Linked DNA regions of Homo sapiens. The protein of the gene in region 2 interacts with the protein of the main gene of each other region in a pairwise test. Each region holds a gene or a part of one and is shown on either strand. Other genes may lie near its edges.

Region 1 (3,655 bases), on a different chromosome or scaffold from region 2:
CGGTGCTGGGTGGCTTAATTCCTCTATCAGGAGACGTGTGAAGTCATGGCCCTGAGGCTCCTCACAGCTCGTGAGGCCACCTTGGTGACAGCATTCCATTCCTGCACAGCTTTTACCTTGCCAAGTTAGCAGTCTCTTTTGCTTTCTTTAGGTTAAGTTACAACAGCTGGAAGCTTCCTATGCATGCCAAGAGAAGGAGCTGCTCAAGGTAACAGCAGGAACTTCAATGTGACTTCTCCCCAAAAAGGGAAATGTGATCTTTGGTCAGGCAATCTATTTCTCAAGTGATTGATTTACATTAAGGTTCCAGATCCAAGACCATGATGGGGCTAGGGAGGGGTAAAGAAAAGGAAGATAAGCACAATCCCTGAGGTTGCTTTCTCTTCAAACATTTTTTTACAGAATACACTCTACAGTTTGTATCTCGCAAATATTAGTTATCTATCTATTCCTCTCCCAACTGCCCCCAAATTCCACCTTTGACCAATAACTCCCATTTAGCTTTTTTACCCTAAAAAAAGGAAATACATTTATCTGTACAGCAAAAAAGAAAACATATTTAGAACAATTAGAAAACCACATTTAGGACCTGGGACCCAAGAGAAAACAAGTATGCTTGTGTTCTTATAGCAATTTACCGAAATATATTTACAACTAAATTTTGATTTCCTAGGTAATGAAGGAGTATGCATTTGTGACCCAGCTCTGTGAAGATCAAGCCCTCTACATAAAGGTAGAGCTTCTTGGTAAAGGGATAGCAAAGGGTTTATTAAGGTACAGGATGAAATAGAACAAGGATTTTCAAAGACTACTGTCCAGAGCAATTTCAACAGTTCAAGGTGGCACTACTAGGATACTTTAAGGTCATCAGCACCCCACCTCACTATCAATATCACTCTATTTGTCTTTGTCTCCCTGGGAATTCCTGCCCTGCTCTCCCACTCTCTGTGCTGTTAAGTTAATAATTCACACTTCTGCTATTTATAATGTCAATGATGCCCAGAAACCTGTCCAGTGGTAAGGCATAGTGAGAGATCAAGAGTAGTAGGGGGGTGAGTTTTATGAAAGCAGAGAAAGTGGCAGTGGGAATACCAAGCATTCATGGTATCATGTAATAACAAGTGCTTATTATGCTTAGAAAAATTGTAAACCTTCTAAGTAGTAACTGTGGCTTTCTTTGTTTCTCTTTGAAGAAGTACCAGGAAACGTTGAAGAAAATAGAAGAAGAACTAGAGGCTCTGTTCCTTGAGAGAGAAGTGTGAGCTTTGGCAAAGGAACATCCTGGTTTTGGTAGAAACTCCATCTCAGCCTGAGTCAGAGCAAACAGTTCTCAGACCAATTTCTATTTGGAATTGAATGAGTCCCGACGCCACATATCTTTGCCCTCTGTTAGTGATCTGGTTGACCCCAGTAGATCACACCAACTTAAAACTTCCAGTCATTCTCCCATCCTTCTAAAAAGACCACAGAAACACATCTCCCTTCGTAATGTTATCACATTATCACATTATTATTCGGGTTGATATTAAGAGTAAAAACATGTACTTTAGAAAGAGTTGGTGGTCAGTCACCTTGATAAGTAGGGTATTCCTTATATATCACAGAAAGGCCTTTTCATTAATACCATCCTCACTTCCCCCAAATATATGGACACCCAACCATAAGGGATAGGCATGAAACTAATCTCTAGACTCATACTACAGCTACCACATTATATAAATCAGAACTGTACACTGTATTGAACTACGAACATTTAAAATTAGAGATGGGAAAGCACTCCTCAAAGTACAATGAGTTTGTCAAGAGTCTAAATGGTGAGAAATCCAAACCAAAAACCTCATCTCCATTTCTTGACCCCCTCTGTAAGTTAAATCTTAATGCAGTCAAGAAGTATTTCTATTTATGAAATATTTTTAAATCCTTAGATCAAGAACAAGAGATCAAAACTGCATATAGCCTCTCTCTATATATATATAGTCCAGGGTCCTAGGACTTGTAGGTCCTTGCCCCTAAAGGACACCTTCAAGTCACTCAAGATCCCTGCTGAACATTGGTTTATGGCTTAACTGTTAAGCCAAGATTCTAGAAAAGGTTGCCCAGTAGAATTTTCTGTGCTAGTTAGTAGGTAAAACTAACTACATATGGCAATTGAGTACATAAAAGATGTACTCAACTGAGGAAATTAATTTAACTTTAATTAATTTAAATAGCTATAGGTAGACAGTAGTTACAATATTGGACAGTACAGATTTAGAATATAAAGCTTTTTTAAAATAACCATAGTGTAGTATGAATATTTCAGTGCACTTTGTTCAATTTCTGTCCTGGCTGTTATCTTCATAGATCAAAACTCGTGAGCATGAACCCTGTGGAAAAAGAGCATACCAGCCAAAATAATGAGGTAAACACTCCATTCTCTCTTCAGCTCCTCACAGTGTCATTGCCTTTCAAAGCCATCTCCAGCAAACTATAAGGCACCAAATATATACCCAATCTTGCCATGCGCATTTTCCAAGAACAGTACCAGCTATAATTACAGAGCATTCCAACCCTAAACAAACAAACTAGACTCTAAGGAACAATCTACTTTCTTCTCATTCAGCCATACAAATAACAGGCTCTCAAAAAACTAGCCGAAGACCTAAGAGAACTCAGAATGGAGGCAAGAAGCAACCTTAATTGAGGGTATGCTCTATAGAAAGAGGCCAATATAGGGCACATACACCACCTCTTCCATCTCCTACAATCACAGTACTCTTTCCTGATGATCTTGACATGGTTCCTAATCTCTCACAACACAGAGCACCCACCATCTGTCATCATCTAGTCAGAATTGGCCTGTGAGTTAAAACATAGAACGCTATTGCTTCTTTGTGACAGAGTTTCAGTGTCTGTTCATATTTAATATAGCAAAGCCACCAGCACACATGTAAAGGTCTGAAGGAAAAGAACAATTTCATACAGAGCACCAATCCTCTTGGCCTGCTTGATGTCTTGTGGCAGCAAGGATAAAAGGTTAAAGTTAAACTTTGGTTGGGCTTTAATTTTGTAATTTATATTGGCTTTAGAGTCCAGGTTGACAAACATCAGAAATTACAGATAGTCAAGATAAATACTTAGAAAAGAGAACTAAACACTTCCTTAAAAGCAAATATCAAATATTGGCCATTGTGTTTGGGTCATCCAAATGTTTGGATATATGTTAGGCCATGTCCATGGTTCTTAAGAGTACTGAACAAGTCATTCTGGCCCCGAAGCTTGCATATTCTGCTTAGTAAACAAAATCCCTGAAATTAACTCGACCCACTTCTGTAGAACCAAGTTTTTGACATCTCCAATGTGTCCTACCATCTCTCCCCACAGCTCATCAAAATATTCCTTCTAACTATGTGTCAGAGGAAAAAATTAAAGTTGTCTACATCAAGCTCATCAGGGTCCCATGATGGTTCAATGACCTAGTGATGTCTGAGCAACTTTGGAGACAGGATGCCTGAGAACTGACTGTTTGGCAGGCCATGTAATCTTACTCAAACTATAGATCAAAATTTGTAATCCTAAAAGTTTCTTTCTAATTCAAATTCTGTAAGCCTCTTTTCCACAGCTCTAATTTTTTTTAGTAGAAAGATGAAGTCTCACTATGTTGTTCAGGCTGGTC
Region 2 (3,655 bases):
CAGAAAAATGTATTATAGCTCCATATGGTAGAATGACCAGGAAGAAGTTTCATCTGGCAAGTCAATGTTTATTAAGAACTGACGGTGTGCACAGCATCACGCCAGGCTGGCAAAAAACAAAATAATCCCAAGCGATCATCCTTGGCCTAAAAAAGGCCTGAATACTACATTATAACGATCTAAAATCCAAACATCTTTTAGTGTGTCTTATAGTTCATTAAATTTTTGAACTGTTAAACACTGTAACTTGACTGCTTAGTCTGGGGAAGCAAAAACTATGTTGGCACAGCCTGAAACACTTGGGAAAATTTATTGCAAAGCAAGGATGCAGCATTGAGGGTTAAACATCTACAAAGCAGGAAATGATGTGAATTTTAACAACTGGCTTAGAAAGCTAACATCTCTTTAGAAAATAATCCTCTGTAAAAAAACAAAATACAAAAAGCCAAAGCACACTTCATTTAGTGGAATATATTATGCAGGACACAGAAAAGGCCAGTATGTTCTACAGCCATGTGCAGGAAATGATCTGGTTAAGACTAAAGGGCAGGGACAATGGGTTCTGAAAAATCAAACATGCAAACCAACACACTTTCAGACAGACTCAGGCAAGCAGTCCATCTAACCCTAAACATCTGTTAACAAATTCCTCCAAATTGCTGCTCAGACTAGGGGCAAAAACATCTTAATGCACCTGACACTGGAGCCACACACATACTCGGCACAATGGCAACTGCCCGCAGGCAGCTTTGAAATGCTGCCTTCTCTACAAATGGCCTAAGTTCTAATCATCTGTCTCTATCTGATCAGAAAAACGTTTCCACCATGTGAACTTCCACCTTTCTGTCTCAGACCAGCCCAACCAGGTAATTTTCACCTCTGCCTATTCCCCTTCAATTTAACTGCTTCCTCTTCAGGTTTTTGTCTTAGAAAAAGGGATTCTCTGTCTAGGTCTAGTCTCTGTGGCAATGCACAAAGTTCCTGTCATTTCCAGTTGGTTTCCTCATCATCAGTCTTCTTCAGACACCCCCAAAACAGATGGCGCTCAGAGATCTGAACTCCAGCCCCCACGATCTGTCAAGTGCAGGCCGACCCTCACCACGGGCCTGGCTTACGTTAGTGGTGAAGGTTCGAGACAGAAGCTCTTCTCGCTGTCTCTCCTGCTGCTCCCTTGCATGGCGCCGATGCTGGAAGTTTCTGAGCGCAGTCTGCAGGTGCTGGACATCATACTTTAACTGGTCAACCCGACTGGAATTGATGGAGAGAGAGATTAAATTCCAGGAACTCAGGGCAGCAGAATCTGAGGGGGCCAGGCTTTGTACTGAGGAAAGACGGCGTTTCCTTACTTCTCCCTACACCACCCCACACTATACCCCCTCACCACAAGATCTAATTTTGATCAACGATGTTGAAAGTCAAGAAGAAACTTGTGGTTAAAGTGAGATGGTAGCACACAAGATTCCAGCAGCTTGACTTCAGAATCTGTTGCTCTGATTCTGGATGCATGACAGAGAACAGGGGACAGGAAGCAGGCTCACTGACCTCTTCTTGACCTTCTATGGATTATATGGCTCTCCTGGAAGAAGCCCAAGGGCATCTTTGAGGTAAAGCATCCACAAAGTTTCATAAAACTTTTGGAAACAGGCGCTGGGGGTGGAGGTGGCAAGGGTGGTTTCATTTTAATTTCATGCTGGAGTATCAAACATTAGATCAGCATTTCATTATGGGTGGACTGATTGAAGTGATTTTTCATTTCAACCCAAGAAGAACCCAGCAGGAACCAAAGAGCAGAACAAAACTCCATGGCAACATTAGGCTTCAGGTGGCTATGGATCTAGTCAAAAAACAGAACTGGAGGCAAAATTTCAAAATGACACCAAAGAGGTAAGGGGTCACAAGGTTTCTGAGTCACAAACCTCACAGGCTATTTATTTTGAGCGGCATCACTCAGATAGAATTGTGCCCTTTGAGGGGGCTTTTTCTTTGCATAGTCATAGTTTTTCAACATGTACGTTGGTTTTCAGAATATTCTATCACCTCCCCCAGGGAGAAAAGCCTGTCTTGATGGGCCTGGAGTATCAGAGCCATGTCAGAGGTCAGCACTTACAGTCTGGCATTTTGCCTTTTGTTAGGGGGCTCCTTGCTGGACAAAATCTCCAGACGTTCTAGACGGCTGAATATCTGGTCTATGCTTGCTTGGATTTCGTTTTCTACTACTGTACAAAAAAGAAAAAAGAATAATTGCTGGAAAAGAGATAGTGAACTTAAATTACAATGATAAATCACAGATTTTTTTTTCAATATCCAATAAACTAGAACTACATATTTCAAAAGGAGAAAAATGTATACACTAATGAATAACAGAAAAAATTCAAGTTAGGCCGTAAATGTTGTTTTGAAAAAAGTACATGTATATAGCTGTTAATGACATAACAATGCCAATTTTTTAAAAAAGCTGAAGGTAAATCTGTAGAAATAAATTTCCTACCTTTAGAAAATAAACATGCAAAGGTTGTCCAAATAAATACTTTAAGCTAAATTTTCTGATATAGGTCTCTTTTCCTTTGGGATTCTCAGACGTGGATTATAAATACCTAGAAAAAGGCTGCCAATTGAATTCCCTATAGTAATGAGTTTTTTTTTTTTTATTTAAAAAAAAAAAAGCATAAAGGAAGGGGAAGATTAGTATGTGAAACATACAGAGAAGAGTTCCCTTAAGGCTTTCTTCCCTTAAAGCTTTCTGTAAGAATGGGTGGGCTGAGCAATGTTGACGTCCCCAAAATAAACCAAATATCAATAGGAAAGGCCCAGGAAAGAATCCACAGAGGTAAAGAGATACGATAAATACGGTCATTTTCCCTATCCCTTTCGATAAGACAGTCAAAATGACCTCTTTCCATTTCTAATCATGTAACAATGAGATTGCTGAGAAGGCAAACAAAGTCCGATGAACAAAGAAGCTAAACTGTGCACAAAAGAAAGCATCCAGACTGCTTCTTGCCCCATAAAGAAGTGACAGCAGTGACACTGCCCCTTCCTAGCCCTTTGTGCCCACAGTGAACAAAGACAGTTGAGATTAGAACAAGGTGGGGCACAGAACCAAGAACAGAGCTGCTTTTGAAGCTGCGAAAGGAGACATGAGAGAACAGGAGGAATGGGTCCTGAGGGAGCCCAGCAGTGGGGTGGGTAGGCAGCCCCCGCAGGTGGTGTCCATATGACCAACTCAGAAAAAGGACCTTTCCTCAGAATAGAAAAAAAAAAAAAAAATGAAAAAAAACAAAAAACCAGCATGCTTCTCAAAAGAAACCATGCTGTGGGAACTAAACTAATTAATATTGCTGTTCGTTTCTGAATAATCCTCCTAAAAAGCCACAGTTCTCAGCTCAGAAGAAATGGCCAATTCCAGTTAAACATCTCTGAATTTTTATGGAGTACATTCCTCTAAGGACTAGGTAATTAGATTAAGATAGATGGAGGCAAGCGCTTCCATTCCCATAGGGCCATGTCAGGTTGAGTGGAGGGGTAATGGGGGATAAGACTTGTGGGATTCCAAAGGGCACACTCAGGGAAATCAGTGACTTTGCCATAGGGTTTTTCTGTCCACCCTAACAACAAAACTCATTCCACGCTGAATCATTAAGCCCCCAAGGCAGAG
Region 3 (2,988 bases), 3.7 Mb from region 2:
GATATAGACCAGGGTTGCAGGTGCCTGGAGTACAGGGACAGCAGACAGGTCATGGTGGGTGAGGGGTCAGCTGGTGGGGCACAGATGCGTTTCCTCGGCAGTCCACATATTCATAGCTCTGAAAGACCAGCTGCTCTGAATGGCTCAGGTATGAACAGGTCAGGGTGCCCCTGGAGAGGAAGCAGGCCTTGTTGCCATGGCTGGGAGGAAAAGGAAAGCTCTGGCCCCATTATACTGTCTGGGGGTGGGGAGCGGGGAGCTCCCTCATTTGCCCTTCCCTCTGGCTCCCCACTCTGCCAAGGTACCTGGGACAGCTGCCCCACCTGTTTTCCAGCAGCTTCCAGACAGCCCTATGCCTGTTGCCCCTAATAACTTATAGGCAAGGTGAGACTCAGAAAAGGGGCTAGACTTGCTATTCCCAAGAGCCAACAAAGATTCATGGGGTCAGCTTGGAAGACTCTCTGCCCATGAGGTGTAGCTGAGTGAGAATGAAGTCAGAAGTGAGAGCAGGGATACCAGAGCTCCAAGCTCTACTTACTGGATGTGCAAAAGCACATGGTGGACTTTGATTTCCAGCCAGGTACAGATTTTGCTGAGAGAGAAGAAAAGAGAACGTGGGACCACGTGTCACATGGAGCAGCCTGTCAGCTCAGAAGATGCCTGCAGGTCCCAGTTTCCTTACCCCACAGAACTCTTTCCTTCCATCAGGTGCCCCCAAAATGTCACTCCCACCCCTTCCCACCCTTCAGGTGAGTGTAGCAGCATGGCTGCACTATCACTCTGACCTCCACTCACTTGGCCCAGGCACATGCTGGACCCCCATTCAGGAGACAGACAAAACATTCTTCTTCCTCAGCAATGCAGGCTGAAGAGCCCAAGGTCACATATTGTAAAGATTAACCAAATTCCAGCCTGTTTTTCATTCTAATCAAGGTCCAAACAAGCAGAGGCTGGGGACCCTGAACCCTTGCTTATTACATTCTCGGCCATGGGAGGGCAGGCCAGATGCTGGCTGAAGAATTTGCTAAGCAATCAGGAAAGCTGGTGGGTATTAATTGGGTCCCTAAGCCAGGCAAGTGGCTAGGGGAGAAGAGATCAAGGGGTACTCACTATGTGTTTTCATCCCGTATCTTGGTAGCTACTGCGTAAAACATCTGTCAACCAAATGGGCACAGGGTTAGCCCCAACTCCAGCTGCCCCTTTCCCACTACCACACATCCACACACCAGTGGGCAGGGCTGGCCAGGGAGAGGGGAGTCACCTGTTCACTGGCCAAAGGGCCAATGTGTAGGAGAAGGTTGTTGGAAACCTGCCCCACCACGAGGGACAGGTGCAGAACCTCGAGGGTCAGCTGTGTCACCATAATGGGGTAGTAGTTGCCATTGGAGATGTTTAAGATATTCTGGGGATGAAGACAAGGGAAGGGAGGAGTGAAGATGGCCCATCCTTAGGAAAAGCCAAACAGTTGCAAAAGCCTGGCTGTCTGGCCTGAGCCCCATCTACCATGACAAGCTTCAGGTGCAGAGGATGAAAACTGGGAGCCCCTTGGAGGGGCATTGAATGGTGAGGGGTCAACTTTACGAAGTTAAGCTGCCTCAGGATCCAGGTCCATCCTGTACAGCTTCTTTCCATTCAGTCCTGTCCATCCAGAGAGTCTCAGGCACTGTCACCCCACTCCACCCCTGTGGTTTACTTATCTGGCCCGGATTCTGACCCCTTACTGTGTAGAGTCCCAATCCTTACCATCTGTCATGGAGCTCATGGTTGCTCCTACTTCTCTTCAGGCTCCCAACACCCTCTGGGTGCCATAAGATCTCTGGCTTCCCATGCCCAGGGTCATAACACTGGACAAAGGTTACAGCGAAGTATTGCTAGGAAGGGGGGTTTGGAGCCAAGGGCACCCACCCACCGTTATGTTGAGGTAGATATCAGCCTCATCAAAGGCCACTGTGGAGGAGTTGAGGCCTGCAGGCTGCACAATGACGGACCGGGGAAACAGGAAAAAGACGATGAAGGAGGAGGTCACCAGGCAGATGAGCACGGCCAGGAACACAAAGAGCTTCCTGTGGGAAAGCAGGACCCAGGATGGAGGAATGGAAAAGTCTGAACACCAAGGAAACTCGGAGAGGGGGTTCAGACACTCCTCTCCATATACAAAGCTTTCCCCTGCACACTACCCCAACAACATTTAGCTCCCCAGATGTGGCCCGGAATGAGTAGGAGCACAGGATTGGCAGGCAGGCAGCCTGGTTTCCACTCCCAGATCTCTGTTCCCATTGACCCAATAACATGGAGCAGCCCACTTAGCCTCCTTAAGTCTCAGTTTCCTTGTTGGTAAAAGGCAGATAATTGTACTGACCTCACAGAATTTGTTATCGGCTAATATATGAAAAAATACTAATCACAGGTCCCTGCACATGGCAAAAGCACAATGAATGCTAGTTATTATCACTAGAAGAAATAAGTCCATATTTGGAAGTTCTGAATTTTAACATTCAGAACAGGACACCATCCATCCAATTCAAAATTCAGATATGCATTAAAGAGATAGTACTTTGTTAGTATCTTATGATGTGCACTGCTAATTTCTTTTTTTTTTCTTTTTTTTGAGATGGAGTCTTGCTGTGTCGCCCAAGCTGGAGTGCAGTGGCACGATCTCGGCTCACTGCAACCTCCACCTCCCGGGTTCACGCCATTCTCCTGCCTCAGCCTCCTGAGTAGCTGGGATTACAGGTGCCTGCCACTATGCCCGGCTAATTTTTGTATTTTTAGTAGAGGCGGTTTTGCCATGTTGGTCAGGCTGGTCTCAAACTCCTGACCTCGTGATCTGCCCGCCTTGGCCTCCCAAAGTGCTGGGATTACAGGGTTTTTTTTTGTTTTTTTTTTTTTTTCAGATGAGGCCTCGCTCTGTTGCTCAGGCTGGAGTGCAGTGGCATGATCTTGGCTCACTGAAGCCTCCACCTCCTGGGTTCAAACAATTCTCCTGCC

Evidence for each region.
Region 1: the proteins of GOSR2 (region 2) and TMCO5A interact in binary tests that used the Homo sapiens proteins (3 or more experiments, as listed by UniProt).
Region 3: the proteins of GOSR2 (region 2) and TMEM106A interact in binary tests that used the Homo sapiens proteins (3 or more experiments, as listed by UniProt).

Annotation. Positions count from the first base shown.
Region 1 is NC_000015.10:37,940,998-37,944,652, forward strand, and holds part of TMCO5A (transmembrane and coiled-coil domain-containing protein 5A), read left to right. Parts: intron 1-151; coding exon 152-208; intron 209-673; coding exon 674-733; intron 734-1,193; coding exon 1,194-1,258; exon of another isoform or gene 1,259-1,290; intron 1,291-2,343; coding exon 2,344-2,401; intron 2,402-3,655.
Region 2 is NC_000017.11:46,929,660-46,933,314, reverse strand, and holds part of GOSR2 (Golgi SNAP receptor complex member 2), read right to left. Parts: intron 2,217-3,655; coding exon 2,108-2,216; intron 1,249-2,107; coding exon 1,116-1,248; intron 1-1,115. UniProt on the Homo sapiens protein: Involved in transport of proteins from the cis/medial-Golgi to the trans-Golgi network.
Region 3 is NC_000017.11:43,214,863-43,217,850, reverse strand, and holds part of TMEM106A (transmembrane protein 106A), read right to left. Parts: intron 2,064-2,988; coding exon 1,910-2,063; intron 1,403-1,909; coding exon 1,262-1,402; intron 1,155-1,261; coding exon 1,111-1,154; intron 593-1,110; coding exon 539-592; intron 171-538; coding exon 50-170; 3' UTR 1-49. UniProt on the Homo sapiens protein: Activates macrophages and polarizes them into M1-like macrophages through the activation of the MAPK and NF-kappaB signaling pathway.